Linked DNA regions of Homo sapiens: region 1 is linked to region 2. Evidence: fine-mapped expression QTL. A gene starts in region 2. The other region holds a variant in brackets. All regions are shown on one strand. Distances are between the middles of the regions.

What was found. PIP is the estimated chance that this variant, and not a neighbour inherited with it, causes the effect.
Region 1: its variant is the best candidate, but not a certain one, in a credible set for the expression of ING2-DT in prefrontal cortex (ROSMAP, PIP 0.58).

What each region holds. Positions count from the first base shown.
Region 1 is chr4:183,449,559-183,466,275 of GRCh38, reverse strand. No RefSeq gene overlaps it. Among named protein-coding and RNA genes, the nearest start is that of CDKN2AIP, 13 kb to the right of the region's middle. The variant G/AAG (reference allele first, on the strand shown) is at 7,679.
Region 2 is chr4:183,496,276-183,512,992 of GRCh38, reverse strand. It overlaps ING2-DT (ING2 divergent transcript), which reads left to right and starts at 8,478. Exons shown (of 3, transcript NR_033995.2): 1 at 8,478-8,817; 2 at 15,324-15,433. ING2 (inhibitor of growth family member 2) reads right to left here and starts at 7,935. Exons shown (of 2, transcript NM_001564.4): 1 at 7,626-7,935; 2 at 564-2,711. The coding sequence starts at 7,797. The coding sequence ends at 2,041. RefSeq lists enhancers at 2,847-3,347, 3,348-3,848 and silencers at 6,584-6,633, 6,874-7,593, 7,814-8,853.

The DNA.
Region 1 (16,717 bases), 47 kb after region 2:
TGTTTTCATACTGCTGATAAAGACATATCTGAGACTGGGAAGAAAAAGAGGTTTAATTGGACTTACAGTTCCATGTGGGCTGGGGAGGCCTCAGAATCATGGGGGGAGGTGAAATTCACTTCTTACATGGCAGCACCAAGAGAAAATGAGGAAGAAGCAAAAGCGGAAACCCCTGATAAACCCATCAGATCTTGTGAGACTTATTCACTATCACAAAAATAGCAAGGGAAAGACTGGCCTGCATGATTCAATCACCCCCCCTCCGCCGGGTCCCTCTCACAACATGTGGGAATTCCGGGAGATACAATTCACATTAAGATCTCGGTAGGGACACAACCAAAACATATCAGCATAGTAATTGGTATTTTCCTTTAATGGCTTCTGAATTTTGTGTCAAAGTTAGAAAGCACCAGCCCCCACCCCACACCATACTTCAAGATTAATTTGCTCATGTTAGTACTTTCATAGTTTTACACTTTATATTTAAGTCTTTGAATTTATCTTGGTGTAAGTTGGAGAGCAGAGATGGATCTTAATTTCATTTCCAATTTGCTACTTAATTTAGTTTTTGATTAAGCTATCTTTCTCCCACTAGTTCAAAATGCTGCTTTTATCATATTTTATATTCCCTAGAAAATTTGACTGATTTCTGAACTTTCTATTTTCTCCCATTTATCTCCTATCTTGTTATGCTCCACTACTATACAATTTTAACTTTTATGACTCCAAGGGTTAAAATATGTTTTTATTTATAGGGTTAAAATATGTTTTAATATCAGGTAGGGATAATACCCCTTCATTATTCTTTTTTTTTCTGAGTTTTCCTGACTACTTATATTTTTTTTCCTACAAACTTTTGAATCAGCTTATCTAGTATACAAATCCTCTTGGTATTTTTCTTGGGATCATGTTAAAATATAGATAAACAAACATAACTATTACACTTATGAAGTTAATTTTTGTATCTAAGAGCTTTATGTGTTTTCCTGTTTGTTGAAAAATTCCTTCTTGTCCCTTAGTATTTCAATGTTTTCTGCATGCAGATTTTAAATGCTTCTTTATCACTAAATAGTTTATTTTCTGTTGCTATTGTAAATAAGGTCTTCTCTATTATGTCTTCTGGTTGGTTATTTTTATATTCTAAAGCACCAGATTTGTATTGGTATTTGGCATTAATTTCATACCCAGGTACTTGACTGAATTCACTTATTTATTTAGATTTTTAAATTGATTATGGGTGGAAATTCTAGTATACAATTATATCTAAATAACAATGATTTTACCTTCTTTCCAATGTTTAAACATATATTTCTCTCATTGAATTTTTTTTTTTTTAAGACAGAATTTCGCTCTTGTCGCACAGCTGGAGTGCAATGGCAGGCTGGAGTGCAATGGCACCGTCTCAGCTCACTGCAACCTCCACCTCCCAGATTCAAGCAATTCTCCTGCCTCAGCCTCCCAAATAGCTGGGATTATAGGCATCCACCACCATGCCTGGGTAATTTTTGTATTTTAGTAGAGACGGGGTTTCACCATGTTGACCAGGCTGGTTTTCTCTCATTTAATTATATTGCTTTGTAGCAGGATGGGCTGCAGGCAAAACTCCTCAGACACCGGCTGAAAGAGGGAAGAGGCTTTATTTAGCTGGGAACCTTGGCAGACTTGCATCTCAAGAACCAAGCTCCCTGAAGAAAAAATTCCTGGCCTTTTTGAGAGGTGAAGCGAGCTGGACTTCCTGGGTTGAGTGGGGACTTGCAGAACTTTTCTGTCTAGCTAGAGGATTGCAAACGCACCAGTCAGCACTCTGTGTCTAGCTAAAGGATTGTAAACACACCAATCAGCACTGTGTAAAAATGCACCAGTCAGCGCTCTGTGTCTAGCTAAAGGACTGTAGACGCACCAATCAGCACTCTGTAAAAATGCACCAATCAGCACTCTGTGTCTAGCTAAAGGATTGTAAACGCACCAATCAGCACTCTATAAAAGCGCACCAATCAGCGCACTGTGTCTAGCTAAAGGATTGTAAACGCACCAATCAGCATTCTGTGTCTAGCTAAAGGATTGTAAACGCACCAATCAGCACTCTGTAAAAATGCACCAATCAGCACTTGGCATCTAGCTAAAGGATTGTAAGTGCACCAATCAACACTCCGCAAAAACACACCAATCATCACTCTGTGTCTAACTAAGGGATTAAATGCACCAATCAGAACTCTGTAAAAATGCACCAGTCAGCACTCTGTAAAATGGACCAATCAGCACTCTGTAAAATGGACCAATCAGCAGGACATGGGTGGGGACAAATAAGGGAATAAAAGCTGGCCACCCCCCAGCCAGCAGCGGCAACCTGCTCAGGTCCCTTTCCACTCTGTGGAAGCTTTGTTCTTTCGCTTTTCACAGTAAATCTTGCTGCTGCTGACTCTTTGGGTCCACACCACCTTTAAAAGTTGTAACACTCGCTGTGAAGGTCCGCAGCTTCATTCTCGAAGTCAGTGAGACCAAGAATCCACCAGAGGGAACCAAGTCTGGACACACTTTTAAGGGCTTACAACTCTATGGGGGTCTACGTGAAAGATATCCAGCAAGTGATCTATAGGTAATACACGTAGTTAGAGTGGGGGGTTAATCTTTAACCTCAGGCCTGGTCAGTGGCACCGGTTGGTCTTGCCACTGACTTCATTTCTGTTGTTTTTCAGCTTTTACTTCCTCCTTCTCTTCAGGGACAGGAAACAGTAAGAGAAATGGCGTATCTCCTCAGCTTAAGATAGTACTTGCCAGGCAGGGTGGCTCACACCTGTAATCCCAGCACTTTGGGAGGCTGAGGTGGGTGGATCATGAGGACAGGAGTTCAAGACCATCCCGACCAACATGGTGAAAACCCCATCTCTACTAAAAATACAAACATTAGGTGGGCGTGGTGGCACGCGCATGTAATCCCAGCTACTCAGGAGGCTGAGGCAGGAGAATTGCTTGAACCTGGGAGGCGAAGGTTGTAGTGAGCCGAGATCGCGGCATTGCACTCCAGCCTGGGCAACAGAACAAGACTCCATCCCCCCACCAAAAAAAAAGTGCTTATCTTGTCCATAACTTAGCAGGAGTGTTTCAATATTACATCCACGCTGTTTCCATATTAAACAGATTCTTTGTGGTTGAGATAAATATATTTCATTATGCTAACAACGTATTTGTATACTCCTGTTAAGAACTTACATCAAGTATGAATATGGAATTTTTCCAATGTCTTTGATAGCTTTTTTAGACATGAGTAGTTATGTGCTGCATGACGATGTTTTGGTAACAATGGACCATGTATACCGTGGTGGTCCCATAAGATTATAATGGAGCTGAAAAACTCCTATCACCTAGTGCTATCATAGCCATCATAACACAATGCATTACTCACGTGTTTGTGAAGATGTTGGTGTAAAGAAACCTACAGAACTGCCGGTCATCTAAAAGTATAGCACATACAATCATGCACAGCACATAATGAAAGGCTTGATAATAAAGGGATATGTTATTGGCTTATGTATTTACTATCCTATATTTTTCATTGTTATTTTTGAGTGTACTCCTGCTTTGCGGTGTCTCACGCCTGTAATTCTATCACTTGGGGAGGCCAAAGCCGGCGGATCACTTGAGGTCAGAAGTTTGAGCCTGACCTGGCCAACATGGTGAAACTCCGTCTCTATTTAAAATACAAAAATTAGCCAGGTATAGTGGCGAATGCCTGTAGTCCCAGCTACTTGGGAGGCTGTGGCAGGAGAATCGCTTGAACCCAGGAGGTGGAGGTTGCAGTGAGCTGAGATCACACCATTGCACTCCAGCCTGGGCAACAGAGCAAGACTGCATCACAAAAAAAAGGAAAGAAAGCTGTAGAATAGCCTCAGGCAGGACCTTTAGGAGTTATTCCAGAAGAAGGCATGTTATTACAGGAGATGACAAGCTGTAGGAGTGGAAGGCAGTGATACCGATCATCCTGGCCCTGTGTAGGCCTAGGCTAATGTGTGTGTTTGTCTTAGTTTTTAGCAAAAAATGTTTTAAAAGTAAAAACATAAAAAATAAAAATTTTAAAAAACATGAAAAAGCTTATAAATATGTTTGCACAGCTATGCAATGTTTTCATGTTTTAAGCTTTTATTACAAAAAAGTTTAAAAAATTAAACTCGATAAAGTAAGTTACAGTAGCCAAAGGTTAATTTATTATTGAAGAAAGAAAAATTATTGTTTATACATTTAGCATAGCCTGCGTGTACAGTGTTTATAAAGTCTATACCCATGCCCAGTAATGTCCTGGGCCCTCACACTCACTCCCCACTCACTCGCTCACTCACCCAGAGCCACTTCCAGTCCTGCAAGCTCCATCCATGGTGAGTGCTCTGTGAAGGCGTTCGTTCTTTATCTTTTGTACCATATTTTTACTGTACCTTTTCTATGTTTAGCTATATTTAGATATACAAATACTTAGCATTGTATTACAGTTGCTTACAGTATTGAGCACAGTCACATGTTGCACAGGTTTGTAGTCTAGGAGCAGTAGGCCATACCTATAGGCCAGACCATAGATCCTAGGTGTGTAGAAGGCTCTACCATCTAGGTTTGCGTAGGTACATGCTATGATGTTTGCACAATGACAAAATTGCCTGACACATTTCTCAGAGCATATCTCCATCATTAAGTGATACATATCTGTATAGAATTTTTCTTCTTATACCTATTAATAATAACAATATATTTCTGTAGAAATATACTTGGTTCATTAACTAAACACTGGAAATGTTACCTCTTTTTATATGCTCTGAAAAAATTAAAATAAGATATGGGAGTTGTCTTTTCTTTAAAGGTTTTACAGAATTCCTCTGGAACTGCTGGAATTTGAGGGGTCTTTTTTTTGACAATTTCCTATTTATTTTATGGTAATTGATCTGTTTAAATTTTTTTCTCTTCTAAATCGATTGTGGGCCCGGCATGGTGGCTCACGCCTGTAATCCCAGCACTTTGGGAGGCTGAGGCAGGTGGATCACTTGAGGTCAGGAGTTCGAGACCAGCCTGGACAACATGGTGAAACCCTATCTCTGCTAAAAATACAAAAATCAGCCAGGTGTGGTGGCGCACACCTATAATCCCAACTACTTGGGTGGCTGAGCCAGGAGACTCACATGAACCCAGAAGGCGGAGGTTGCAGTGAGCTGAGATGGTGCCACTGCACTCAATCCTGGGCGACAGAAGGAGACTCTGTCTCAAAAAAAAAAAAAATCGATTATGGTAAATGACACTTTTCTAGAAAACAATTTTATTCATTTTTATATGAGATTTCCACTATATTTGTGGTTACTTTCCTCTTATCAGTAATTTTTTTTTTTTGGAGACAGAGTCTCGCTCTGTCTCTCAGGTTGGAGTGCGGTGGCTGATCTCAGCTCACTGCAACCTCTGCCTCCCAGGTTCAAGAGATTCTCCTGCCTCAGCTTCCTGAGTAGCTGGGACTACAGGCATGTACCACCACGCCCGGCTAATTTTTTTGTATTTTTAGTGGAAACGGGGTTGCACCATGTTAGACAGGCTGGTCTCGAACTCCTGACTTCAGGTGATCTGCCCACCTGGGCCTCCCAAAGTGCTGGGATTACAGGCGTGGACCACCACACCCGGCCTCAATAAATTCTTATTTGCGTACTTGTTTTTCTCCTTCATTAGGTTAAGCAATGGCTTGTCCATTTTATTGTTTTTGTTTTGTTTTGTTTTGTTTTGAGACAAGGTCTCGCTCTGTCACCCAGGCTGGAGTACAGTGGAGCAATCACAGCTCACTGCAGCCTCAACTTCCCAGGCTCAAGTAATTCTCCTGCCTCAGCCTCTTGAGTAGCTGGGACTACAGGTATGTGCCACCATACCCAGCTAATTTCTTAAAATATATTTTGTAGAGACAGGATCTCACCATGTTGCCCAAGCTGGTCTTGAACTCCTGGGCTCAGGCAATCCTCCTGCCTCAGCCTCGCAAAGTGCTGGGATTACAGGCATTAGACACTGCACCTCGCCTATATTATTGTTTAAAAAAAGATTTCGAATTTAGTTTCCAGTTCTGTGGATTTAAAAAATTGTTCTATTTCATCAACTTATGATTTTATCATTATTCATTTCTTTATTCTGCTTTCCTTACATTTATTTTTTATTCTTCTAATTTGTATTTTCCTTCTTATTTACTTTGACTCTGTAGCTAAGCTTCATATCCCATACATACAAATATGGAATGTTTTCTATTATTTTTATTTGCTATTTTGCAGTTTCTACTTTGATTTCATCTTGAATTCCAGAGCTGTTAAGAAAGTATTTTAAAGTTTCCAGATGGCAGATAGTTTTTGTTTTGGGTGATGTTATTACATAACTCCTAATTTCGTTGCATTGTGATTGAGATTGTTGTCTGTACGTTTTCATTTTTGTGAATATTCCATGAATACTTGTAAAAACAGACCGTTGCCTTTTTTCAGCAATCATCATTTGATATATATTTGGATATATAACTGAGATCTGTTTCATTAACTGTGTTATCTAGCTCCTCTGTAGCCTTGATTTTTGTCCAGTTGATCTGTCACGGACCTTGAGAGGCGATTGAAAGTCATCAGTGCACTGAGGTCTGTTTTTCTGGTCTCTCCTATAATTTTTCCTTTTGAATATTGAATGTTAACTCTCTGCTATTTGGTGCTTAACTGTTCATAACTATTAGATGTATATTGTGAATTATGTCGTCTGCCATTATGAAGCGCTCTTCTTTGTTTTGTTTCTTACTTTTGAACCTGAACTCAACCTTGTCTAACAGTAAGAGCTCAACTCCTGCTTTGTTTTTGGATAGTTTGTCTATTTTTGGTTGATATTTTAATACTACACATTAGGTGCAAGGCAATGTTGTAAGCACTCTACACATTACCTCATTTAATATTTTTTACTTTTAATGATATGTTTTTGCTTATCCTTTTATTTTCAAACTTTTTGCGTATTTTTAATTGTGTCCCCTGAATGCAGCATAAAGTTGTATTTTGCTTTATGATTCAATCTGAAAATTGTTTTCTTTATATAGGTAAGTTTATTCATTTATACTTTTGATGAGCCACATACATTTGGTGTTGATTCTGTCCTATTTATTTTGTGCTTTCTCTTTTTACATCTTTTAAAAGATGTCACTGTATGACCTATTTTCTGTGTTGTGTGTATATGTTTTTCTTTTGAAAGGTAGGAAGATTTGGGTTTTTCCTCCCAGAGTTTACCCTTCTAAATGTGACTTTATATTGTGCCCTTAATCTCTCACTTCTTTAGAGAGTATCTATTTATTTATTCTTGCATTGTGATAAAGGAATACCTGAGGCTGGGTTATTTATAAAGAAAAGAGCTTTAAGGCCAGGTGTAGTGGCTCACGCCTGTAATCCCAGCACTTTAGGAGGCCGAGGCGAGCGGATCATCTGAGGTCAGGAGCTCGAGACCAGCCTGGCCAACACGATGAAACCCTGTCTCTGCTAAAAATACAAAAATTAGCCAGGCGTGGTGGCAGGCGCCTCTAATCCCAGCTACTCGGGAGGCTGAGGCAGAATTGCTTGAACCTGGGAGACGGAGGTTGCAGTGAGCCAAGATTGTGCCACTGCACTCCAGCCTGGGTGACACAGCGAAACTCCATCTCAAAAAAAAAAAAAAAAAA[G/AAG]GAAAAGAAAAGAGGTTTAATTGGCTCACGGCTCTGCAGGCTGCACAGGAAGCATGGTGCCAGCATCTGCTTCTGGGGAGGCCTCAGGAGGCTTCCTATCATGGCAGAAGGCAAAGGGGAGTCAGTGTGTCACATGGTGAGACTGGGGACGAGAGAGAGAGAGGACAGTGCCACACTTTTAAACAACCAGATCTCATGTGAACTCAGGCCCCACCTCCAGCACTGGGGATCATATTTCAACATGACATTTGCAGGGACCAAACATCCAAACCATATCAATACTATTCCCAAATTTAGTTTATTATCTTTCTCATTATTTACCTTTCAGCGTGTTTTTTAAAAACCTAAAACCCTCTATTATTTGACTCGCCAGCATTGAATGGTAAACGCTGACCTCATCTATTAAAGATGAGTAAATTTGCACACTTATTTCTACCTACCTTCTTTCTCTTTTCTGCTCCAACTTTTATTAATTATATCATTTCTACATTATCAGAAAATATAAAATTTACTTTCTTTTCTGTCACTTTAATCCCTGAGTTTGCTTTCATCTTGGTTATACTGTTAAATAAAGTTAGCCGGGCGCAGTGGCTCACACCTGTAATCCCAGCAGTTTGGGAGGCCGAGGCGGGTGGATCCCAAGGTCAGGAGATCGAGACCATCCTGGCTAACATGGTGAAACCCTGTCTCTACTAAAAATACAAAAAATTAGCCGGGCGTGGTGCGGGCGCCTGTAGTCCCAGCTACTTGGGAGGCTGAGACAGGAGAATGGCGTGAACCTGGGAGGCGGAGGTTGCAGTGAGCTGAGATCGCGCCACTGCACTCCAGCCTGGGCGACAGGGCAAGACTCTGTCTCAAAAAAAAAAAAAAAATAGAGTCAGTGATTGCTTCCCATCCCTTTGTGCTAACTTTCCCGGTCAGCTTGCTGGTTAAAACTTCCTTACTTATGCAGAGTTCATGGGACAATATCCTTGAGTTCTTGGGTATTAAAAATTGTGTCTGTATTGGAATCATCATTTGCCTGGATAAAATTCTTCTTCACAATTTTTTCTTAGTGTCTTCTGGTGCTTCGTGTTGCTATGAAGTATGAATTTACCCTGAGTTTTTTCTTATACATTACTTGAACTTTTTGCCTGGACACCCAAAGGATCCCTTCTAAAATCTATGAAGTCCAATAATTTTATTAAGATACATGTAAATATTTAGAGCTGGGCATGGTGCATGCATCTGTAGTCCCAGTTTTTCAGGACGCTGAGGCAGGAGGATCTCTTGAGCCTGGGATTTCAAGACCAGAGTGGGCAATATAGCAAGACCCCATCTCAAAAATATATATATATATGAATATTTAGTATTATAGGCCAGTTTTCCCTGAAATATGGTGTGCTCTTTCAGCATGTTGATCCTATTTTATTTTATAAAAATGTTTGAAGTATTATTGTTTGTCCTGTTCAACAATTCAACTTTATTTTTTGAGACTCCAATTATGCTCTTCACCTCCTTTGTCTATTTTCTCTGTCATTTCGCTCAAATTTTAAAATCCCAAATTGATACTTCCTTTGATCCACTTTTATGCTTTCGACTCTGCTCCTGTGTCGTCAGCAGCATCTTCTCTGCCTGTGCTTCTTCCGATCTCGTTTTCAATTCTATGCTGACTTTACTGCTTCCTCTCAGTTCCTGAGTCCCTCCAGCCTATGTTTTATGTATTCCTGGTGCTCATTCTTTCTTCCCTGAGCTACCACACTTCTGCTTTGAGCTCTTGCTTCATAGAACTGATTGCTGTTTTAAGTTGCTGCTGCTGTTTTTAATTCATGGAGTAATGTTTGGTCCCAATTTTCAGACTGTCATTGTTGGCTCATAATGTGGCCCATAGGGTCTACGAATGTGAGACTGTCCGCTGTATACCTCAGGGCTCCGCAGACTCTCGGGTTTCTGGGATTTTTTGATAGATTAAGTATTTTGGAGGACATGGGTGAAAATGCCTGATGTTAGGACAGGCACCCTGTGCTTAGGACGTGCTAGCATGCTTTGAGCCTCATTAACACTCAAGAGTGGCCAGTTTTCTCCCTGCTAAGTATTCCAGCCAGTGCCTGAAAACAGTGTTGCTAGAATACTAACAATTTCTCCTGAAGAGTGGAAGAAAACCAAAGAGCTACACCGCTACCGGACTCTCCTGAGATAGACTTTGTCTAAAAGGGCGTAATGCTGTGAGTCTGGCTCTTTCATCTCTTGAGGAGGCAGCAATTTTCATTTTCATCAGCGTGACACCCATTGGCTCTAAGTGATATCACAAGTAATTTTTTGCTAATGATAGAATAAGGAAGATTGAGTGATCTATTCTTTTTACAGATTATATCAGATTTAAAGGCACGTACTGTATTTGTGATGACCATCTGTCTAACTGTTGGAAGGAACAAAACATTACAGATTATCTTAGTGGAAACAGCTTTCCCAGGAAGGTAGTGATAACCAAAAAATTAGGGTAGGAAACTAAGAGAGACCAAGTCCACTGTAAGATAAGATTGTTGGCATCGTTCAATGGCTCTTACCAGTGGTTTTAATCGATAGACATCTGGTGAAAAAGCTGCCCATATTGGCAGCATTGGCAGCAAAGAGTTGCTTTGGCTGGATGTGATGGCAGCTTGGAGACCAGTAGAATGAAAACCACAGGAACCAGGGGGAGGAAATCCGTTGTGGGAGGGCACCAGCATCACCCTATTCTGATCAGTTGTTTGAGTTTCTGAGGGAAATCTCCTGACCATTTTTCTTTCTGAGGCACAGTGTTTGGGGAACTTGCTAGGAGAAAGACCTTGAGAATGGGGAGAGTGTGCTCCAGGACCTGGGAGTGCTGGATGGCTTTCATGACCATCTTCGTACAGCGTGGACCATGGCAAGAACTTATTGGAGGTCTCAACGGCTGTTTGTTCACCCTGAGTCATTCTACAGGACATCTATTTTGGCCTGCCCAGCACATTTTTTCCTTTTATGGTTAAAACATCCCTCTGGAAAGTCATCCCTGAGGCAATGAGAACTTTCAGGAATTCTCCCCACCACCACTACTGCCCAGCCACCCATACCCAGGTCATATGGTCTCAGTGGGGATGGCAGTCAAGGTGCCCAGCTCAGGATAGGCGCTTTAGCTGCTTCAAGGGTCTGTTGTCTAATGCCCAGGGACAGATAGGTTAACCAACCTTCATTCTGGTCCCATAGCTTTGAATTCAAGTATGTTCTTGGCTCAGGCCATGTTATCTTGGGAAAGCTAGGAGCAATAGATGAAAATGAAACTGGGCAAGAGATGGTGGGTTTACACCAAATGTTCAGAAACAAGTGATGTGATAAATTAAGGGACATTATCTATTTGTAGGAGAGAACACAAAGCAGACACTCAAGTTTTATTCCGTATCTGAGCCAACACAATTCTTCATCTGTCTAGTTCCTGATTTTCCCCCAAGGTTTGGGAATAGAAACAAAACAAATATAACATAATCTAAGCAGCCTTACATTATCTTATGTGCTTTTATTTTAGGACAGTCTTGAAATAATCCCTCCTGTAGAAGAATATGTTGGGCAAAGTAATTCATGACCAAGTATAAATAGTGCCCCCAGTATCAGCACATAACTAGCATATATGCTACTTCCAAGAAGAGTTTCTTAGAATTTATGTGCTATCAATGCTTCATAGACCTTTAATACTATTTTTTTCAAAATCCTTTCTTTAGCAGCTCTTTCCATATTACAGAACCAAATTCCTTTTTAAAGTAAGGTTTTAAAAATAAATTCACTATATACAGCAATCACAGGGATTCCAAAAAGGGCCACCTTCTTCCACAACTTCAGGGGGCACCACTCATTGTAGTAACTGATGTCTATTACATTGCTTGTGAACGGCTCCCCGTGGTGTGTACAGCTAGGTGGCTCTGTATTTAAGGTCCTGATGCTTTCACTATTTCTTACTCAAGCCCTCTTTGCTTTGCTCTCTTGGAACCTCCTAAGAAGTGATGCATTCTTTAATTACAGCCAGGGGATAAAAGAAGCAGGATCGGCCGGGCGTGGTGGCTCACGCCTGTAATCCCAGCACTTTGTGAGGCCGAGGCGGGCAGATCACGAGGTCAGGAGATCAAGACCATCCTGGCTAACACGGTGAAACCCCGTCTCTACTAAAAATACAAAAAATTAGCCGGGTGTAGTGGCGGGTGCCTGTAATCCCAGCTACTCAGGAGGCTGAAGCAGGAGAATGGCGTGAACCCGGGAGACGGAGCTGGCAGTGAGCCAAGATTGCGCCGCTGCACTCCAGCCTGGGTGACAGAGCGAGACTCCGTCTCAAAAAAAAAAAAAAAAAAAAAAGCAGCAGGATCATTGGATGAAAATTGTCATCACTCTCATCTCTGCTATATTGACACAGGTGAAATTCATGCTACACCATAGAGCAGGGGGTCCCCAACCTGCAAGCCTCCAGTACCAGTCTGTGGCCTGTTAGGAACGGGGCCACACAGCAGGAGGTGAGCAGCGAGTGAGTGAGCAAAGCTTCATCTGTATTTACTGCTGCTCGCCATTGCTCACATGACCGCCTGAGCTCTGCCTCTTGTCAGATCAGCGGTGGCATTAGATTCTCATAGGAACACAAACCCTATTGTGAACTGTGCATGTGAGGGATCTAGATTGCACACTCCTTATGAGAATCTAATGCCTGATGACCTGTCACTGTTTCCCATCACCCCCCGATGGGACCATCTGGTTGTAGAAAACAAGCTCAGGTCTTCCACTGATGGTGTATTATGGTGAGTTGTATAATTATTTCATTATATATTGCAAAGTAATAACAATAGAAATAAAGTGTACAGGCTGGGTGTGGTAGCTCATGCCTGTAATCCCAACACTTTGCGAGGCCGAAGCAGGTAGGTAATATGAGGTCAGGAGTTCAATCAAGACCAGCCTGACAAACATGGTGAAACCCTGTCTCTACTAAATATACAAAACTTAGCCAGGCATGGTGGCTCATGCCTGTACTCCCAGCTACTCAGGAGGCTGAAGCAGAAGAATCGCTTGAATCTGGGAGGTGGAAGTTGCAGTGAGCTGAGATGGCACCACTACACTCCAGCCTGGGCAACAGAGCGAGACTCTATCTCAAAAAAAAAAAAAAGTGCACAATAAATGTAATGTGCTTGAATCATACCAAAACCATTCCCTACCCACCATCCGTGGAAAAATGGTCTTCCCTGAAACTGGTCCCTGGTGCCAAAAAGGTTGGGGACCACTGTCATAGAGGTCAGGACCCTCAGGTCTCAAATGCCTGCCTCTTTAACCTCCTCCTTGACATCCTTCCCTATGAGAACCATAGTGGCAGAATGATTGCTAGAGAATGCAAATTACAGGGGAGTGTAGTGAATATTTTCAAAATAGTATCCTTATTTTACTCCATCTTATTTCTCTTGTTAATCACATACAATATTATTTTGAAACAAAAAACAAAGACAGAAAGGTGCACATATTTCTACCCCATACTAGTTTCCAAACTGCAGGTTGAGCATTCATGATAAACTCCTGCATTAAGTATATATGATCCACTATCAGTGCACATAGCTAAGATACACTAGAAATGCTTCCCGGGAACTCAGATTTTATTTCATGAGAATCATTTTTTCCTTAGCTAGTATAGAAAATTATTTAATAATATGCAAGTGGTGAAGAGTAACAGACAGCATTCCTAAGATACATCATGCGTCTCGACGCATTGGTTATATCATTGCCTCTGTAAATTGTCCCTGAATTCTACAAATAGAATGTCTAGAAAAATTTTCTAATGATTCACATCAAGTTTTCTTTAAAGTTTACTTTTTTAGAAGCTTCCTAAATAGTTGAACATAAAATTTCTCAAATTTTCCTCAAAGTGTGCATTTCGCTTACTATTTTCTGGAATATAGGAAACAAGGATCATGGGACAGCACGTCTCACTGGCATTTACATTCACTGCCCCAAATCAGAACCAAACCACTGTTCAAGTCTTCTGTAAGAACACTGGATTTGGGTCCCTGAGGTGCTGATAAAATTTTATTTTTTGGCTTACATAATTATTATATGGGCATTCAGTAATTGTTGGACTTTACATGTGTGGACTTTATGGGTTTTTGCAATTGTATTTCACAATAAAAAGAAACAAAAGGCAGCTATTTTTAGTATTACTTAAATGTTAATTTATGTAATAATCCCTTAAACCCGATCTGAGTCCCCACTCAAGTAAATTTTAATATGGCATACTACTTTAAAAAACTAATTAGTTCAACTTTGTAGTAAACTGGCAGCTTCGACCCACATCCACTCTAACACCTATTGCAGAAGGAGGCTGGCTGTTTACACTAAGCCTCCTAGTTGCTGCATCCCCTCTGCTCATAGTCCAAGGAGGTAGCTCAGAAATTGAGTCTGAGAACAGAGGCTGGGTGTGGTGGCTCACGCCTGTAATCCCAACACTTTGGGAGGCTGAGGCAGGTGGATCACCTGAGGTCAGGAGTTCGAGACCAGTCTGGCCTAGATGGTGAAACCCCATCTCTACTAAAAATACAAAAATTAGCTGGGTGTGATGGTGCGCACCTGTAATCCCAGCTACTTAGGAGGCCAAGGCAGGAGAATCGCTTGAACCCGGGAGGCAGATGTTGCAGTGAACCGCTGCACTCCAGCCTGGGCAACATAACCAGATCTGTCTCAAAAAAAAAAAGAAAAAGAAATTAAGAACCAAACGTATAATTCAGTTGTAGGGTGTGGCCACCCTCCTTTGACCAAAGTAGTTCTCTGTTTTACATACACAATGCCCCCATTTTTCTTTGAAGAAATATGGCTAAAGTTTGAAAACCACTGATGACATATTCAGAACTTGGGTTTTATCATTTTTAAGTGTCTAAGCCCTGGTACACTGAAAACAGTATAAGGAAATCACTAGATGATTCCCTCCCAAATCACCTTTTTGTACATTTGTCTCTAGCTTCCAAGTTATATACATTGCACATGATAGTCCCACTTCAGTAAAATGGTAGTCTTTAGTGTATTTACTACTTATATTGTTTAGTTTGGTTGCTTCCTAAGACCTCCAAGGATTCTGATTCTATTCAATAAAGTTTCAAATTCACAAAGTATTTCTGATTGCTTCTTAAGTACTGGCATATGTAATCTCTAGTTTTTACTCAAAATGTCCTGTATCCAACCCTTTGTGTTTAGTATTACTTTTTTTTTTTTTTTGACACGGAGTCTCACTCTGTCACCCAGGCTGGAGTGCAGTGGCACAATCATAGCTCACTGCAACCTCCACCTCCCAGGTTCAAGCGATTCTCCTATCTCAGCCTCCCAAGTAGCTGGGGTGACAGGCACGCACCACCACGCCCAGCTAATGTTGTAGTTTTATAAGATAAAGTTTCACCATTTTGGCCAGGCTGGTCTCAAACTCCTGACTTCAGGTGATCCGCCTGCCTTGGCCTCCCAAAGTGCTGGCATTACAGTTGTGGGCCACCATGCCCAACCTAGCATTACTTTTCTTTTTTCCCTTCAAAGTTAAAAGTCCATTTAGTTTGGGGCCTTGTCTACTCTTTTTCTTGCTAGATGAATAGCAAAGGAACAGAAAAAGAACTTTAAAAACTAATAATTTTCAGATAATGACTTTTAAAGGAGAAAAATCGGCTGGGCACAGTGGCTCACGCCTGTAATCCCAGCAATTTGGGAGGCTGAGGCAGGTGGATCACAAGATCAGGAGTTCGAGACCAACCTGACCAACATGGTGAAACCCCGTCTCTACTAAAAATACAAAAAAATTAGCTGGGTGTAGTGATGCACGCCTGTAATCCCAGCTACTCAGGAGGCTGAGGCAGGAGAATTGCTTGACCCCAAGAGGCCGAGGTTGCAGTGAGCCGAGATCACGCCACTGCACTCCAGCCTGGGTGACAGAGCAAGACTCCCTCTGTCTCAAAAAAAAAACAAACAAAAAAACAAAACAAAAACAAAAGGAGGAAAATCGAGAGATATTAAAATTAAAGTTGGTAGTAAGAAATGGTTCTAACTGGATGGCAACTAAGCTGTGTGCAGGGATGCCAAAGAAATATGATTGATATTTTTCTTGGGGAGGAATAGTTGGGCAATAAATGGCTTAACCCTTCATTCAACTTGAACATTTTGTTCTAGTAGAAAGTGAAATAGTTTATTCATCAATCACAGAAAATATTATTTAAAAATCATGCAGGAATGGATAACCAATGTCTAGAAAGTAGGTCAATATAGGACTTCAGCACAATTTTTGAGGACAAAGTCCACAAAGTAGTAACACAATACCTGTAGGACTGACCTGATTCCCAATTGCGGCTTGTTTTTGTTACTTTCTCACTGCTGTTACTCAAAAATCTAAACAGCAAGTAGAAATTTGTACCAAGAAAAGCTGCACTTGGCAGGGAAAACATAATTCAAATTGGAGCAGGCTCCTGATAATACATATCAAAGGCCTTAAAGTTACACATATCCCTATGACAATTATCCTAGCCAATGACAGCAGTGACAGGCTCCAAGAATTTAGGTCAAAAACTCATGACAGTATCATTCTTACAAGTCAACTAATTTTACCATTAAAAAAAAAATCTCATTCTAACATCAAGAAAAATCTTGATGTCTCAGGAAATCGTCTCCCCTCACTCATCTGAAAAAAGCAGTATATCCCATCTTGGTAGCCGACTTTATTCACTCAACTTGATTATACACTATTTTAGGCAGGTGTGTTTGGTTTTTTGGTTTTGGGGGGTTTTTTGTGCAGATTTCTTTTGTGTGTGTATGGTCTTTTTACAAAGTTCAACTGCATCCATATGGGATGATTCACTAGTTGAGGATATTCAAGATATGCAAGTATTAGAAGCATTAATAATAGAAGAGCCTCTGAAGTGACTCATTTCAAGGAGGCTTTAGAAAGATGCGGTCACTTAATCTGGTAAAAAATCACGTTCTGGGAGGGATTTTCAGAAATTTCAGCATATAGAGAAGTGACAAGGATAATAAGCAGTACAACATACTTGAGCTTGG
Region 2 (16,717 bases):
TGCTTAAGACTTCTATTTCCAAGATGTGTAGAAAACAAAACAAAAAAGTCATAAAACTGTTTCAGATATTAGGTCTTAAAGAGAGCACACCTTCCAGGATTTTCCAGGTTCGTTTTCCCGTCAAGTCTAATCCAAACTTTGGCATTTCTATTAGGAAGTCGTTTCTTTTCTCCCATCTGCCAAGGCAGATTTACGTATGAAAAAGTGGTGACTTCTATGTAAGTCGCATCTGAAGGCTTTGGGGGTTTTGTCCATACTGATATTTTTAATGGTGTCAAGTAAAAAGCTCCATTCTGGTAACAAGGTTGTAATCACTAAAACAAAATGCCATATTCTCAAAAGGATTTCCTTACAACTCAGCTAAGTTATGGTGATGAGAAAGGATTTGCTAAATTCTTAATCATGCTGTCTAACATTTCTCACTCAAAAGGTAATAGAATCAACTAGCTCTAGTCATGAATCCAAATATTCTTAGGACAGAAGCTAACAAATATTGCACATTTACCCATCTCCAAACTCACCTTTAAACTATCTTTATACCTCAGAATGAAGGACAAAATTAATGAAAAGAGAAGTCATGTCATTATTAAAATCCTCACTATAGTGCAAATAGTAGAAATTTCCAAGGAATCTCGGAGATATTTAAGCCAACTCATTTTACAGGTGAATGACCTGACACCCAGACAAGGTGAAATGACATGCCTAAAAGTCACACAGGAGAGCTAGAAGAGAAAAAAAGCATTTTTTTTTCCCAAAACAAGCAGACAGGATTTTTCATGTTAATCAAAAAGAATCAAGATCATCAGATTAGGAAGAAATGAGGAATAAAACATACGTTACACACAGATTTAAAGAACTAGTCAATCTGCTGCCCCCAAAACCAAAACCTTCTCTAAACATATGGACATATATCCATCAAGATGCTTACCCTTCAAATATCAGAATCTTGGAAAATTCAATTTACAAATACATTAATTGCATTATGATGATGAAATAAGTTAATTAAATGTGAAAACATCAAACAGCACCAATACTAGAAGTTAAGACAGTAAATACACTATTATTTAAAATAGTCACTGATTGGGACAGAAATGAACAATAACCACTAGCAAAACCATTTAAAACAACTCTCTGACATAAAGGCAATATTTAAAGACTACTATATGCCCCTTTCCACTGATAGGCCTGTGGCTACGCATCCTGGCAGCAGGTCACATGGAAAATACTATTAATTAAGATGTATTTTTAAATTGTTCAACCTTGAGCCGTGATACTATATAACCCAAAGTTTGCCAATGTAAGCCAATGTATATTTTTGGTATGCTAACTACTCTTACCTGTCCCAATTAAAAGAAAACACAAAACAACTCCCTTATTAAGCACTAGACTAAGTATATCTACAAAGCAGCAGCAAGGCATTGACAAATGGGCTACTGACAGTGGATCAAAATGCTACTAAGCAAAAGACAGCAGCACGTACTCTCATAAGAGCACATTATTCCACATGGAATCCCAAATTACTCTTATCTCCAGTTCCTTAAACTCCTAGAAGACTAGAGATGAACAAGCCAACGTATAAATAGGACTAGGGAAAAAGCAGCTCAAATGGCATAGTGTCTGTATTTTAAAGTACCCAAGATCATTTGATGCTTAAGAGAAATCCCACTACATCTAACATTTTTTTAAGCATGTATAACTAAAATGCTAGTGAAACTTTTGTGTTTACCCAAAAAATAACATTGCAGTTTTAAGTGAAAATGAAATAGGCATGGTTTGTGAAATTTTTATAATGTTTACACCACCCTCTTCCTGTTCCCTGCTCCTTTCATCAGGTGATCTGAAGACTACCTGGTTGGAAATATTTGGTAACTCAGTGCAGAAAATTAAGGTCACAGACAAAGTACAACAACTTTTAATACACCATTAATACTAATGATTAAAAATTATTGCATAGTCTTATGCATTTACCCTAAAACATTTTCTGAAAGCAAACGAATTATATAAAAGACAAATAACCCTTTAAAATGTGGATGGCCTTTACTACCTCGATCTTCTATCCTTTTTTGTCTTTTCAGTACTTTTGTCCATTGTTTTCTCATTATCTCCCCTGCACTTTGGGCAATACCATTTCCCCTTTGGTTTATAGGTAAGTGAAACACATGAAAAGTGAAACCATTCAATTGGACACTGTTCATTGTCACATCCTATCATCTCCCCATAAGACACTTGGTTGCATAAGCAGTATGTAGGTTCATTAGGATCTATTGCAAACTCAACAGGTGAAGCTTCCCTTTCCTGCTTGGCCTTGGAGCGTTTCTTTTTCTTTGCTGACTTGGATTTCTTTTCTTTAGGTGGCTGATCATCACAGTCTTCAATCCCATTTGCCATGTGACATAAATCACGGCTTTCACTGGTCCGCTGCCTGCGGGGTCTTCTTGAAGATCTTTCTGGTTGGCTGGAATCCATCTTTGCTTTATCTGAGGCTCGTTCACTTTCAGCAGGATCTTGGAAACACTGTGAGTGTAACTCCATTTGTCTTGCCCGATTTTCCACCAATTCGAGCATTTGTGTAACAATCTGTATTTTTTCATCTCCCAATTCTTGACTATTAATTAGTGCTCTCTGGAGAAGCTGCTGTAGACGTTTCTTCTGGTTTAAATCATCTTCTTTCTTATATTTTTCGTAGACATCATCAATTTCCTTTAACGTTTCTAAAAAAAGGAAAAGAAAAATGAGAACGTTATCATGTGTTAGCAGACACAACATTTCCAAGGTAGTTATTTTTTACAGAATTGAAATTAGAACTCAAACCATGAAACCATACTCCTCTTTGGTACATATACATTAAAAACTATTTCATACAAAGACCACATTATCTAATATGAAAGTATAGTTAGAAATAAAGTAATGAAAAGAAAGAACACAAAACTAATACTCATTAATCTATATTAAAAAGAGGCTGGGCGCGGTGGCTCACGCCTGTAATCCCAGCACTTTGGGAAGCCGAGGCAGGTGGATCACCTGAGGTCAGGAGTTCAAGACCAACCTGGCCAAGATAGTGAAACCCTGTCTCTACTAAAAATGCAAAAATTAGCCGGGCATGGTGGCAGGCGCCCCTCATCATTTCAGCTACTTGGGAGGCTGAGGCAGAGAACTGCTTGAACCCGGAAGGCGGAGGTTGCCGTGAGCCGAGATCGCACCGCTGCACTCCGGTCTGGGCGACAGAGCAAAACTCCATCTCAAAAAAAAAAAAAAAAAGGCCAGGCGCGGTGGCTCACGCTTGTAATCCCAGCACTTTGGGAGGCCGAGGCGGGTGGATCACGAGGTCAGGAGATCGAGACCACGGTGAAACCCCGTCTCTACTAAAAATACAAAAAAAATTAGCCGGGCGCAGTGGCGGGCGCCTGTAGTCCCAGCTACTCAGGAGGCTGAGGCAGGAGAATGGCGAGAACCCTGGAGGCGGAGCTTGCAGTGAGCCGAGATCGCGCCACTGCACTCCAGCCTGGGAGACAGAGCAAGACTCCGTCTCAAAAAAAAAAAAAAAGGATAAGAGATGTTTGGCTAATTAATGATCAAAAGTATTTCTCATGGGCAGGAACACTGAATGCCACTTTAGTCTACTAAGTACTGTAACACCTTCAAAACAACCCTATATATAAAATGTGCAGGCTGGGGTCCAGCTCTAAAACTTGAAAAGGTTACAGGACTAGGCTACAGATTACTGCCCAACTGTGTTTACAGGATTTACAGTCCAATCAATGACTTGTGACAATGACTTGTGACATGACTCCGGAGATATAGCTTCACTTTCACATCATACATTCTTAACAAAGAAGGCATAAGCAACTCTTAGCTTCCCATCATCTTACTTTTAATGGCTCTACTTTAGCCTCACATGGGAAATTCTGAAAATGAAACTATTTCCAGAGTAGGTTCTGGTTCTGGCATCAACTGACCAAACCACTAACAAAATTACAATAAAGTCAGCACTCGATCATTCTGCCTTTGTAGATAAATCAGTAGTTGGTTCTGAGCTTTCTGAACTGCTGATTTAGTTGTATGGCACGTGGAATACACTTACTTAAATCAAGTAAAAATAGCTGAGTCACTAGAAGGTATCCAAAAATCTGAAAATATAATTTCAGATGTCACCAAAAATTTACTTAAGATTAGTTTTGCTCGAATCCGTTTTATTTCTTATTCTTACAAGATGTAATGCTATCTCAAAGAGTTCTGTCCGCATGGTATTTTTCATACCACATGGCATACTAGTTTTATATTCCAATATTATAATTATTAAAAACAGAAATGTTAGGCAAGTAGATATATACATTGGGGCTGTCTGCAAGTAAGGCACACAAAAGCAAATATTCAACAGAACTCATTAATCAGCTTCTCCCTGGAAATCGCAGGTACTCGTACTTGATGTACAACTGTCTAACTTGGAATATATAACAAAGTGCCACCACACAGTTCAGAGTACTTACACCTGCATAGCATATTTTCGAACAAAGTTCATGTCTATTCCATTTGCTTAGCTCGGCATCTAAGCAGATTTCTTAAGAACCTCATTTCCCTACAGGAAAAATAAGGAAACTGGTTCCCTCAGACACATAAAAAATTGAGGATTAAAAAAAAAAGAGGCAAACCTCTTTTCAAATATTTTGTACCTAATAATCAGGTGTTAGAGGCTAAGTACAGTATATATCATACCAGCACATTGATAGATGAGATAAAAAATTTGTAAGATACCGTATTATATAGTGAAAGAAGACAAGAAATTAACATTTACTCAGCCCCTTCTATGTGGTAAAGATTTTCTCAGTTAATCTCCACAGCAACCCCATGAGGAAGCCATCACTTCTGCTTGTGAAAAAAACTGCAACTCAAGAGATAAGAACCCCAGACTTTGAACTGTGCCAGATCTGTATGTCTGACCTCGCAGTGTAAGCACTTTCTATAAACTATATGAAAGGCACTTGAAATTAAGTATCAAAGTTTAGTTTGAAGGTTGTTATTTATCTAAGAAATTATGAGTGGGAACACTAGAATAAAAATAAAGGTTCTCTAATAACCCTATCCCATAATAAGTACTTCAATTGTGAAATTGTTTTCTTCTTTATTTCTCATTTTATAAGTTTTTCAGCAGTTCTGAAAGTGTCTCAAGTAGGTTAGAAAGAAATTTGACTGCCTATATAATTTATATCACTAAATATTGCTAGAAATATTAGATCCAAAACCAGAAAATACTTAAGCACTAGTGAAGATATAAAAAACATGAAATCTGAACCCAAAATATACATAAACATAAAACTGTGAAAGTTGAGCTCAGTAACCACGTGCAGAGTGAAAACTAGATGAGTTTTTAATCACTAATCACAAACTTCATAGAGCTAAGAATTTGTATAATCTCTCAATCTTGTAAGGCCTACTATATTACTAATGTTACCAGAGCTATTAATACCTGACAATTATAGATGATCCGAAAGATTTCCCTGTCAACAAATTATAGTATCCCTCACCAACTTCAAATAGCTTAACTCTTGTGAAAGGAAACATGTGCCTTCAAAGAAATGTAAAAACCTGCAAGCTTGCTGGGCGCGGTGGCTCACGCCTGTAATCCCAGCACTTTCGGAGGCCGAGGCGGGCGGGTCCCCTGAGGTCAGGAGTTCAAGACCATCCTGGCCAACATGGTGAAACTCCGTCTCTACTAAAAATACAAAACTTAGCCCGGCGTGATGGCAGTTGCCTGTAATCCCAGCTACTCGGGAGGCTGAGGCAGGAGAATCGCTTGAACCCGGGAGGCAGAGGTTGCAGGGAGCTAAGATCGAGCCACTGCACTCCAGCCTAGGGGACAGAGCAAGGCTCTGTCTAAAACAACAACACAAACTACAAGCTTTACAAACTTTGGTGTTATCTGAAAAACTAGAAAGGTTCCATATACAATTATTAAGCACGTATCATTTTTAGGTTACCATTCATGTTTGTGCTCCATATCTGTAGAAATCCCCTTGGACAGTTTTTATTAAAACTTAAATTGTTTGAAAACAAAGATATGCATCTACAGTAGCAGGCTCTGGAGCCAAATATTCTACATCGAATTAACTGGACGAGTTACTTGAACTCTTTGTAATCTGTAAAAGAAATATTTATATAATGGTCTGGACCCAGCGCATCAGTTTTAATTCCCTCCCCACCCCCTCCCCAAACACGGATCAGTCCTATGAATCCTATGGATTCAGAAAACAGAAACAAATTTATAAACTAAAAAACATCAGACACTTATGTCACCCAAGAAGTGGATTCCTTAGAGACTTTTAAAGTATAGGATTACTGGCGTGTCTACAAAAACAGAGAATGGGTCCAGGAAATTATCTTTAAAGTTCGTATGGCTGTTTCCATACTATGTTCAAGGTCTGTTCCTCGATTCAAGGTTATTAAGCGCAACACATTTCCCCTTTTAAACTGCCCTCCTAGTAGCACCACCGATAGTAGGTGGTAACACTGTAAGGAAGGTCGATTCTGTCCCGGGTTCCCGGGTCGGCCGGCAAAGGGTGGTTTCGCCTCCACACTTAAAGTCGGAGAAGGAGGGGCTCGGGGACGCCAGGCGGTTGCCCAGTCAACCAACCCACTTCCTCCTGAAGCCCGGAAGTGACACATGTCCCGGAACCTACGCGGAGCCAGGATCCGCGACGGTCCGAGCTGCTGATCGCCGTCCTGATCCATTGACTGGGAAAGAGGTTGGAAACATCACCGCAAAACATGCTGCAAACCCCGATTCGGACTCCGCTGGGGCCGAACCAACGCCCCCGCACAGCCCCGACTCCCTCCCCAGCAGCCAGCTCGCCACCGCCCCTCTCGCGACCAGCCATTTTCCAGGCCCGCGGGAACGCGCGCCGCGCCCCTCCCACGCCCCTCGTCAAGCCCGCAGGCCCCGCCCCCGGCGCGGGGGCCCTCCCCGCCACACACGCCCCTCTCTTCCTCTCCCGCGGGGGACCCCTCCCCTCTTAACCATTTTGCCGAAAGAACTGGGCTAGGGCTACAACGCGGGGCGCCCGCGAACTTTCCCGGGGCGAGAGAGCGGAACGGACTGCTCTCCTCCGGGCCGGGGCAGGAGCGCGGAGGAAGGCCCCCTCAGTCCGCCTCCGCGGCCTCTCGCCCCCTCCCCCCGCACGTTCCAAAGCACCCGCACTCCGGGGTGGGGGCGAGTGAGGTGGGGAAGCGCGCCCCGCAGACCAGCGGGAGCCCGGCCGCTCACTCCCTCCGACCCTTGCCCGGCTGCAGTCCCGGGCCGGGGCCGCAGGGTCTGCGGCACGGGGCGGGCCAGCGCCTGAACAAATGCTTGCTGCTTAAAATGGCTGATTCCCCTCAGCGGCAGCTGCAGCCGCTGGGTCTGCAGCGGGGGCTGACAAGCGGCCCCCACCCCCACTCTGGGGACCCCAGAGAAGTACTCGCCCACCGCGGGGCCACGGAGGGCCGCCAACCCGGTCTCCAGTCCTCCCAGTCCCGCTCGGCAGACCCTCGGTGCGCTCGGGGAGACTGTCACGGGAGAAAGGGAAGGTGGCACTCCCCCGGACAGGCTCCCCGCCACCGGCTCCCGAGGCCGGCAGCCCCGCGGCTCCTACCTTGATATTTGTTGTCCAGCTCTCGCAGCACAGACACGTTCCTCTGCATGTCGTGGGGCAGCGACTCCACGCACTCAAGGTAGTCCTGCACGTAGCAGGTGAGCAGCCGGCTCCGCTCCCCGGTCAGGAGCGCGGCCGACGAGTACAGTTGCTGCTGCTGCTGCCCTAACATCCTGCCGATCCGCGCCGTCGCCGCCGCCTCCGCATCCAGCAGCCGCACATGCACCGGCCGCGGCCGCCGCGGGCCCTCAGCTCAGCAGCCCGGCGCCGCGGGGACCCCGCAGCCGCTCGAGAGGGCACGGCCGCGCTCCCCGATCTCCACTCCCCCCAGAGCAGCCCTCACTCCCCGCCCCCGCAGCACCAGCCCAGGGGCGGGGCGAAACCGGGGCTCCCTCCTTTCTCCCCTCCCGCTCCAGGACCGGAGCAGTGGGGATCCCCTCGGCGGGGCCGGCGCCGGGGTCCCGGGCGCTGACACTTCCTGTCCCCCTCGGAGTCCCCAGATGCTACGAGTGCCGTCTCGCAGCCCGGATCCCCATGACAAGCCCGTCGCCGCCCGCCTGTCCCCAGTCACCCTCCGTGCCTCACGGAGAGCCTCCCGCTAGCCTGCCCCCGCCCCTCCGCCCGCGGCCGCCTCTGCGCCTGCGCAGCGCTCCCTGCGAATAAGGCCGGGGCCCGCCCCTACCGCCTACCGGAGGGTTCGCATTCTCCCGCCTTCGCTCCGCCGCCCGGGCGATTGGTCTGCCGGCTCTGGGCTAGCGGGGGAGGGTGTGGGGGGCGGCCAAACGGCAGGCCGCGCCCCGCCCCCCTTAAAGGGGAAGCCCGGGGAGCCAGTCTCTGCGCCTCGCGTCTGAATGGGACCCGGGAGGGGAGGCGGCTCGGTCCTTCGTGCCGTCCTCCCCGCTGGGAGGGGCAGCTCCAGCTCCGCTCGGCTCGCTCCGCCCGGCCACACCGGCTTTTTCCCCATCAGGCGGTCCGAGTGCGGCTCCTCGCGAGCCTGCAAAGGAGCAGCAGGCGGTTCCTTTTCGGACGACCTGGAGCGAGGCCTGCGGGACTGCGCGCCCCGGCGGGCGGCGTGCGGCTCCCGGCATGCGCGGCGGCTGCGTTCCCGCCGCCTCCGAGCTCGCCTGGGGCTGCCGCCCGCCTCCTGCCGGGCCCTCGGGCTCGCCCGGCACCGCGGGGCTTGATCAGGGAGGTAGGCGGTGCTCCCTCCGGCCCCCGGCGTCGTGTGCCCTGCGGGTTTCGTGGCCCTTCCCCTACGCTGGAATCTTCTGTGTCATTTAGGGGGAGGGGATGCGGGACGGCATCTGTTTGACAACGCATTGGTCCCACAGACAGCCTTTAAAAACAACTGCTTTTGGGGGGTGTCAGAACATTTAAGCACAGGACGTCGGTGAGGCTTCCTGGCGGAGTGGGGCACACGCCAGCTTTACGGGACTTTTTGCTCAGTCCTGCCCCAGGACTGCAATCGGAGGGGACCTGGGGCATGGAGGAGACGCGAGTGAAAACCTAGTCAGCGGGCGGGCCCTCGGCCCCATAATCTACGTGATCTCCTAGTGGGGTTTAATTTCGGTGTAGTGTAAATGAGATGTCAGGCAGAGGAGCTGATTTTAATTACAGATGGACATTTTTGAAAGAAATGGGTGCAAATAGAATGAATGCATGGATAATTTTAATGGAATGCCTATGTAAACAAGGCCAATTGTGAGTACTACCTTTGAGTTAAAATGTGAGTGAGTGGTGACAAATTTGGATCTTCTTAGATCCAGTTTGCAGCGTTGGTACACCTGAATGGTGACCTATTTAGAGCACTTTTGAAACAGCTGTTAATAGTAACTAGCCTTTGACTTGCAAAGAGAAATCTAGATCTTTATCTAGAGGAAATTTTAAATTTCAAACCAAAATAAAGCACTCCAGGCAATTTGACATCTTGGGACGTCAACTATTTCAAAGGACTGGGAAATTGTCTTGGGTTATTATCCTAGGACACTGAGGTTTGGGCCAGTATTAAGCAACCCAGACAGTACAGTGGATAGTATTTCTGAGAACATTCTGGGATTTTACTGTTCGTGAAATCTTTCGGCCGGGTCTTGTCAAAAAACCGCCACTGTGAAGAACTGAATTTTACTGGTTTTTACTTGAACCCTGCTATTTTTGTTTTCTCACAAGTTTGAATAAGCTGGTCTTTATCAAAGGCGCAAAATAATGTGGGGTGCCTTGTTACAGGTCAGACACCGAATGTACCTATGGATTTTATTCAGTCTGATAAGTGATCTGCAAGTAGATAAGAAATGTGTTTAGAAACTAGAAGGGGAAAAAGGCAAAGATGCAGAATACCTAGAGTACTCCAGAAACAGAGCAAGATGAGAGGAGGGATGAGCATGGGATAGGAGACATTTATAGCATTATTGTCACCTTTTATAATTCTGTTGAACAGGCTGGTAAAAAAGCAAAAACAATCCAAAGAATATTTTAGCTGGTACTGATCTAAAACTGTAAAACACTGTAATATGATAATATATGTATATGTATGAATTATTTTAGGCATGCTTTTCTTGCTATATTTATTTTAAGAGATTAATCTACGGCTTATTCTTGCCACCCCCAAAAAAAATCGCCACAAACCCTAAACCCAACTCTTGACCTTGGTTATTGAGCGCTGTCCTTCCCTTCTGAGTGGTCACTTAACTGGAAATATGGGGCCTCTTCAGATTGAATTTCTTGTCTTCTAAATGCAAAATTTAAAATCTCCCGTTCTCAGCAACTAGAAATTAATTTATGGTATTTAATCCTGTGAATAAAGCAAAAAGGCATTTTATTTGCTCTACAGTGTATTATCTACCATAAAGCAACCCTAAAAAAAAGATAAGTAACTGATCTCCCCAAATTAGTCTGGGATTACCTTGAATTTCTAAGTCTGACTTTAAGAGGTCCCTGGCAGGAAATGTGTACGCCTCCGTACCTGTCTCTTGGGGAGAGCAACAACTTCAAACTGGTTGAAAACAAACTGGCAAGTAATGGTGAAAGATTCCTAAAGATGCCTGCTGAGAAAATTCAGCTTCTGTTTGAGTCAGATCAAATAAATGAAATCCTTTTCTTTTTTCTACTTTTTAATATTTTTAAACTTTTATGGAAATTTTCAAAGGCAAAAGTAATACTACAATAAATCCTTATATACCGTCTACCCAGCTTCAACATTTAGCAACATATGGCTAAGATTATTTAATCTATAGCCCTTCACATTCCCTCACTCTTGCTGGATTTTTATCATTTTATCTGTAAATACTTTAAATATGAATAATATGAATAGGTAAAATATAATAGTTGTTTTTTGTTTGTTTGTTTTTGAGACTGAGACTTGCTTTTGTCGCCCAGGCTGGAGTGCAATGGGGCGATCTTGGCTCTTTGCAACCTCCGCCTCCCAGGTTCAAGCGATTCTCCTGCTTCAGCCTCCCAAGTAGCTGAGATTACAGGTATGTGTCACCATGCCCAGCTAATTTTTGTATTTTTAGTAGAGAGGGGGTTTCACCATGTTGGTTAAAGCTGGTGTGGAACTCCTGACCTCCAGAGATCCGCCCGCCTTGGCCTGCCAAAGTGCTGGGATTACAGACGTGAGCCACCATGCCTGGCCAAGATAACAGTTTTTTAAGCATATCCGTAATACCATGTATTCTGCCTCCCCAAATTTTCTTACTATCATTTAATAACTACACAATTCAAATTTTCCTATTGTCTCAGTAAATCTTTCACATTTGGTTTAACAGGATCCAGCAAATCCCATGCATTTTATTTGGTTACTGAGGTCTTTTCCAAACCAGTAAGAGGCAGTTAATTCCCTGTTTAATTCAGTGAAGCAGAGAGCAATGTTTTTCTGAGGAAGATATTTAAGTAGTTTAAAATCACTGCTTTAAATATGGAGAAATTCAAGAAGAAATCCTCATATGAAAAGTCACCAATTGATAGCGTGTTGTAAGAAATGTAATTGTACCTGATGCAAATAAATAAATCCTTAGTAATCTAGGAGGCTGTGTTAGAGTGTAATTTGTTCTAGAAGGTCCAGTGAAGCATCTTAAATTATAGTGAAAAACCCTAAAACTTTAAATCAATTCATTAGTACAAAAAGCAACTAAAGAAAAACCTAATAGTCCTGTAATCCCAGCACTTTGGGAGGCCGAGGCGGGCGGATCACGAGGTCAGGAGATCAAGACCATCCTGGCTAACACGGTGAAACCCCGTCTCTACTAAAAATGCAAAAAATCAGCTGGGCGTAGTGGCGGGCACCTGTAGTCCCAGCTACTGGGGAGGCTGAGGCAGGAGAATGGCATGAACCCGGGAGGCGGAGGTTGCAGTGAGCGGAGATCATGCCACTGCACTCCAGCCTGGGCGACAAAGCGAGACTCCGTCTCAAAGAAAAAAAAAAAACAAAACCTAATGGTGTGCGTCTCCACTGAACTCAGTTTTAAAGCATTAAAGCATTTTTTATTACTTTATTACATAAGTAATACACATTATTGTAGAAAAAATTTAAATAGAAATAAAAAGATATATAAAAGTCACTACAAACTGGAGATAACTCTTCTCAATATCTAAATATACTCCAAGATGTAATTCCATTTTAGCAGTTCTTTTGCTTTAAGAAAACACTTTGGCTAGGATTGAAGTACAAAGTTAGGCCAGGTGTGGTGGCTCATGCCTGTAATCCCAGCACTTTGCCACGAGGTGGGCAGATCACCTGAGGCCAGGAGTTCGAGACCAGCCTGACCAATATGATGAAACCCCATCTCTACTAAAAATACAAAAATTAGCCGGGCGTGGTGGCATGTGCCTGTAATCCCAGATACTCAGAGGCTGAGACAGGAGAATCGCTTGAACCCGGAAGGCAGAGATTGCAGTGAGCCAAGATGGTGCCATTGCACTCTCCAGCCTGGGCAGCAAGAGCAAAACTCTGTCTCATTTAAAAAAAAAAAAAAAAAAAAAAAAGGACAAAGTTAAGAAAATATCAGATTCTGTAGAAGGAATATTAGAAATCTGAGCAATATCACCCTGTACTTGGAGTTTATGTGTTAGACTGCACAGATTTAACTGGTGTATACAGTCAATCCTACTGCTTTAGATTATAGTACTATTCAGCATTTAGGATGACTACTAAAAGCAAAATATGATCCTAAAACGTTTTAACGAAGGGACCGTGTGAATGACTGGGATTGTAGTGAAGAGGAAATTCGGTATAATAAGATCTCATATTTTCATAAACAAGAAAAAAGGCAAACGTAATATCCCCTTAGCTATCCCAAAGAGAAAAAATAGCACATATGGTATACTTTGCATATTGCTGACCAGAAAAACATTCAATTTTCCCTGGTTAGTTACCATAGTTACATGAGCCCTTTATAACATCAAGAGGGGGAACTAGGTCACAGTTTTGAAGGAGTTTGAATTATGCAATTATGTTTTCTAAAAGCAGGGGAAAGGGTTTTTAATTTAGAGAAGAGAGATTTATACTCTGTTCAAAATTGAAATTTTGGTCTAATTTTGCTGGCAAAGCCTAAAAATTTGTCCAAAATTTAATAGTTGATATAGTACATATAAATTATTCAACCTATACAAATAACATAATAGCTAGATCCATAAAAATGACATATTCTGTCTTTGTAGATATCCCTTTTTCTCAATGAGCTGTTATCCAAAAATGTTTTTGCAGGTAATCAGGAAACCCAACAATTGCCTAGCGTCTGAGAGTAGCCAAACCATGTGTAAACTAAAGCCTTGAACTCTTCCGGTCTTTGAAAGTGTGAGGTAAAGGTTGGCACAGTGCCTGTCAGATGCTACTCTTTGTTGTACAGCAATTTTCCTATTGATTTCATCAAATGGAAGTGAGTGGCAGGAAGGGAATGTATTGAAAGTTGTGGTGGCACAGCCTTCACCCTTTATATATATTATTATTATAATTATTTTTACTAAGAACCTTACAAAAAAGATGTTTTTATTTAAAAAAAAAAAAAAAGGCCGGCCTTGTGGCTCACCTGTAACCCCAGACTCTGGGTGGCCAAGGTAGGAGGATCACTTGAGAACAGGAACGTGAGAACAGCTTAAGTAGCAGAGAGATCCTGTCTCTGCAAAAAATTAAAAAATTAGCCGGGTGCAGTGGTGTGTACCTATAGTATCAGCTACTTGGGAGGCTGAGGCAGGAGGATCCCTTGTGCCCATGAGTTTGAGGCTGCAGTGAGCTAGGATCGTACCACTGCACTCCAGCCTGGGCAACAGAGTGAGACCCTGTCTCAAAAAGAAAATGCATCTCAAGGTTGCATGATTTCAGATAGTTGTTTTCAATCTCATGATCACTCTAGACTCGTAATTTTTTAATGCTGAAGTTATCTTAGATCAACGATTTCTCCAAAGGAAGGAAGAGCAGGCAACAGGCAGCTCAACTGGGTAGCTGGAGGAGCCAGTGTTGCTGATGGTAGTTTATCCTAACCATCATCTATGTAAGGATGGGGAAGAGGATGGAGATCACTATTACAGATCACCTACAGACCAGCTTTTTTACAGGTGATAGTATTGGGACGCAGAGAAGTTAGCTTGCCCAGTGTCATATAACAATCCATAAAATAAGTATATACCTAAAAGTTTAAGAGTTAAACAAATAATTATCTTTTTTCTGGCTGACAATTATTGAGGGGAGAAGCAGGCCCATGGGAAAAAATTAAGAACTCGGATATCATAAAATATTTTTCTGTGAAGTCTCGCAGCAAATTTAACATCTCTGAAGGAAAATTAGAATTTCCTGGAGAATAATGTTTCAAGTAACCACCCAGTCAAAAGTACTAGAAACTGTGTATCCTTTATTCTTATTTTAAAGGATCAATGCCTTATGCTTTCAGCACTAGCTAAAGAATAGTCTTTTAAAAATGAAACTAATGCTGTCGGCTAGGTGCTTTTTGCTAAATCTATTGTTTATTTGAAGTACTTGATTATTTAATGAGGTCTTATTGGAGCTATTGTTACATTAATTGCTCTTAGCATGGTTAATCCAATATTTGATAGGTATTGATTATCTTTCATGGGTAACAGATTTTTTTTTTTTTTTTGAGACGAGTCTCGCTCTGTCACCAGGGTGGAGTGCAGTAGTGTGATCTCAGCTCACTGCAACCTCTGCCTCCTGGGTTGAAGCAATACTCCTGCCTCAGCCTCCCAAGTAGCTGGGACTACAGGCGCACGCCACCACACCCAGCTAATTTTTGCATTTTTTAGTAGAGATGGGTTTTCACCATGTTGGGCAGGTTGGTCTCGATCTCTTGACCTCATGATCTGCCCGCCTCAGCCTCCCAAAGTGCTGGGATTATAGGCATGAGCCACCATGCCCAGTAAGGGTAACAGATATTTAAAAATTATTTATTTCCATAAATTGACATTCTCTGACTGTTTTATACATGAAACCAGTATATCTCACTTTACACAATACATACATTTCTGGAAAATTGTATTTAGATCTTATTTTGCTAAATCAGGTAATTTTAAATGTGCCAGTTCTATAAAATGAGACCGAAATTTTGAAAATGAAAATATTCATTTAATACAAATAATTTATCTTATTTTATTTATTTTTCTCTGTTGTTACCTTGAGAAAACATAGGTAGTGTTCATTAACTGCAGTCTAGATGTACTTTCATTTTCTTGTTCTAACTATACTGTATATTGCAGATATTTTAGTACAACATCTTTTCATCACAGAAATGATATCTTCAGGGAAAAGACTTCGAAAAAGTGCCTGAAGTGACACAACACATGTTTTCTTCTGGTATCTGGCTAAAGTAAGTACGAAAATTAGATTAAAAACAAAGATATAAAATATATGGGGGAAAATTATATGGGAAGTATTAGAAGCTAAAAAGCTATATATTAAGGGGAAATAGAAGAATCAGAGAAAGAAATGACTATTTGAGCCATTACTGATGATGGTAGAACATTAAAATTAAAATTTAGGGACTGAGATATACAAATTTTATTTATGGAGACTATTTGTGATACTTTTTTTAAATAACAAAAAATATAGTTGCTGGCCAGGTGCAGTGGCTCACACCTGTAATCCCAGCACTTTGGGAGGCCAAGGCAGGCGGATCACTTGAGGTCAGGAGTTTGAGACCAGCCTGGCCAACATGATGAAACCTCACCTCTACTAAAATACAAAAATTGGCTGGGTGCAGTGGCAGGCACCTATAATCCCAGCTACTCAGGAGGCTAAGGCAGGAGAATTGCTTGAGCCCACAAGGCAGAGCTTGCAGTGAGCTGAGATCGCGCCACTGCATTCCAGCCTGGGTGACAGAGTGAGAGACTGTCTCAAAAAAAAAAAAAAAAAAGTGTGTGTGTGTGTGTATGTGTGTGCATATATATATGTGTGTATGTGTGTGTGTGTGTATATATAGTTGTAATACAGGGTTAGAGCAATAGCATATCTAACCTAGTCTTTGACTTGATAATTGGTATGTTGATTAAAAAATAACTTCAAAAAGCCAAGTGACTTCCTTATATGATATTACATTTAGGATATCCTAAACAATGTTAACTTTGTATTCAGATTAAATATCTCTGGAAAAATAGTCCGGCAATATCTAGAGGCTTCATTTATCCTTTTGCACATTTGTTTTTCTTTTTTTGGTATATGTATTATTTTAACAAAAATCTATGCTTCATCTAAAATATAAAAGAAACAAAGAACTGGGTGGGTGCGGTGGCTCATGCCTGTAATCCCAGCACTTTGGGAGGCCAAGGCAGGTGGATCACGAGGTCAGGAGATCGAGACCATCCTGGCCAACATGGTGAAACCCCATCTCTACTAAAAAAAATACAAAAAATTGCGTGATGTGCGCGTGCCTGTAGTCCCAGCTATTTGGAAGGCTGAGGCAGGGGAATCGCTTGAACCCGGGAGGCAGAGGTTGCAGTGAGCCGAGATCGTGCCATTGCACTCCAGCCTGGTGACAGAGCGAGACTCCGTCTCAAAAAAAAAGGAAAAGAAACAAAGAACGTTATGCACTTTCTAGAATAACAAAATGCAAATGTAATATTATCTACCAGGAAAAGAGTAGATAAGTAGATAC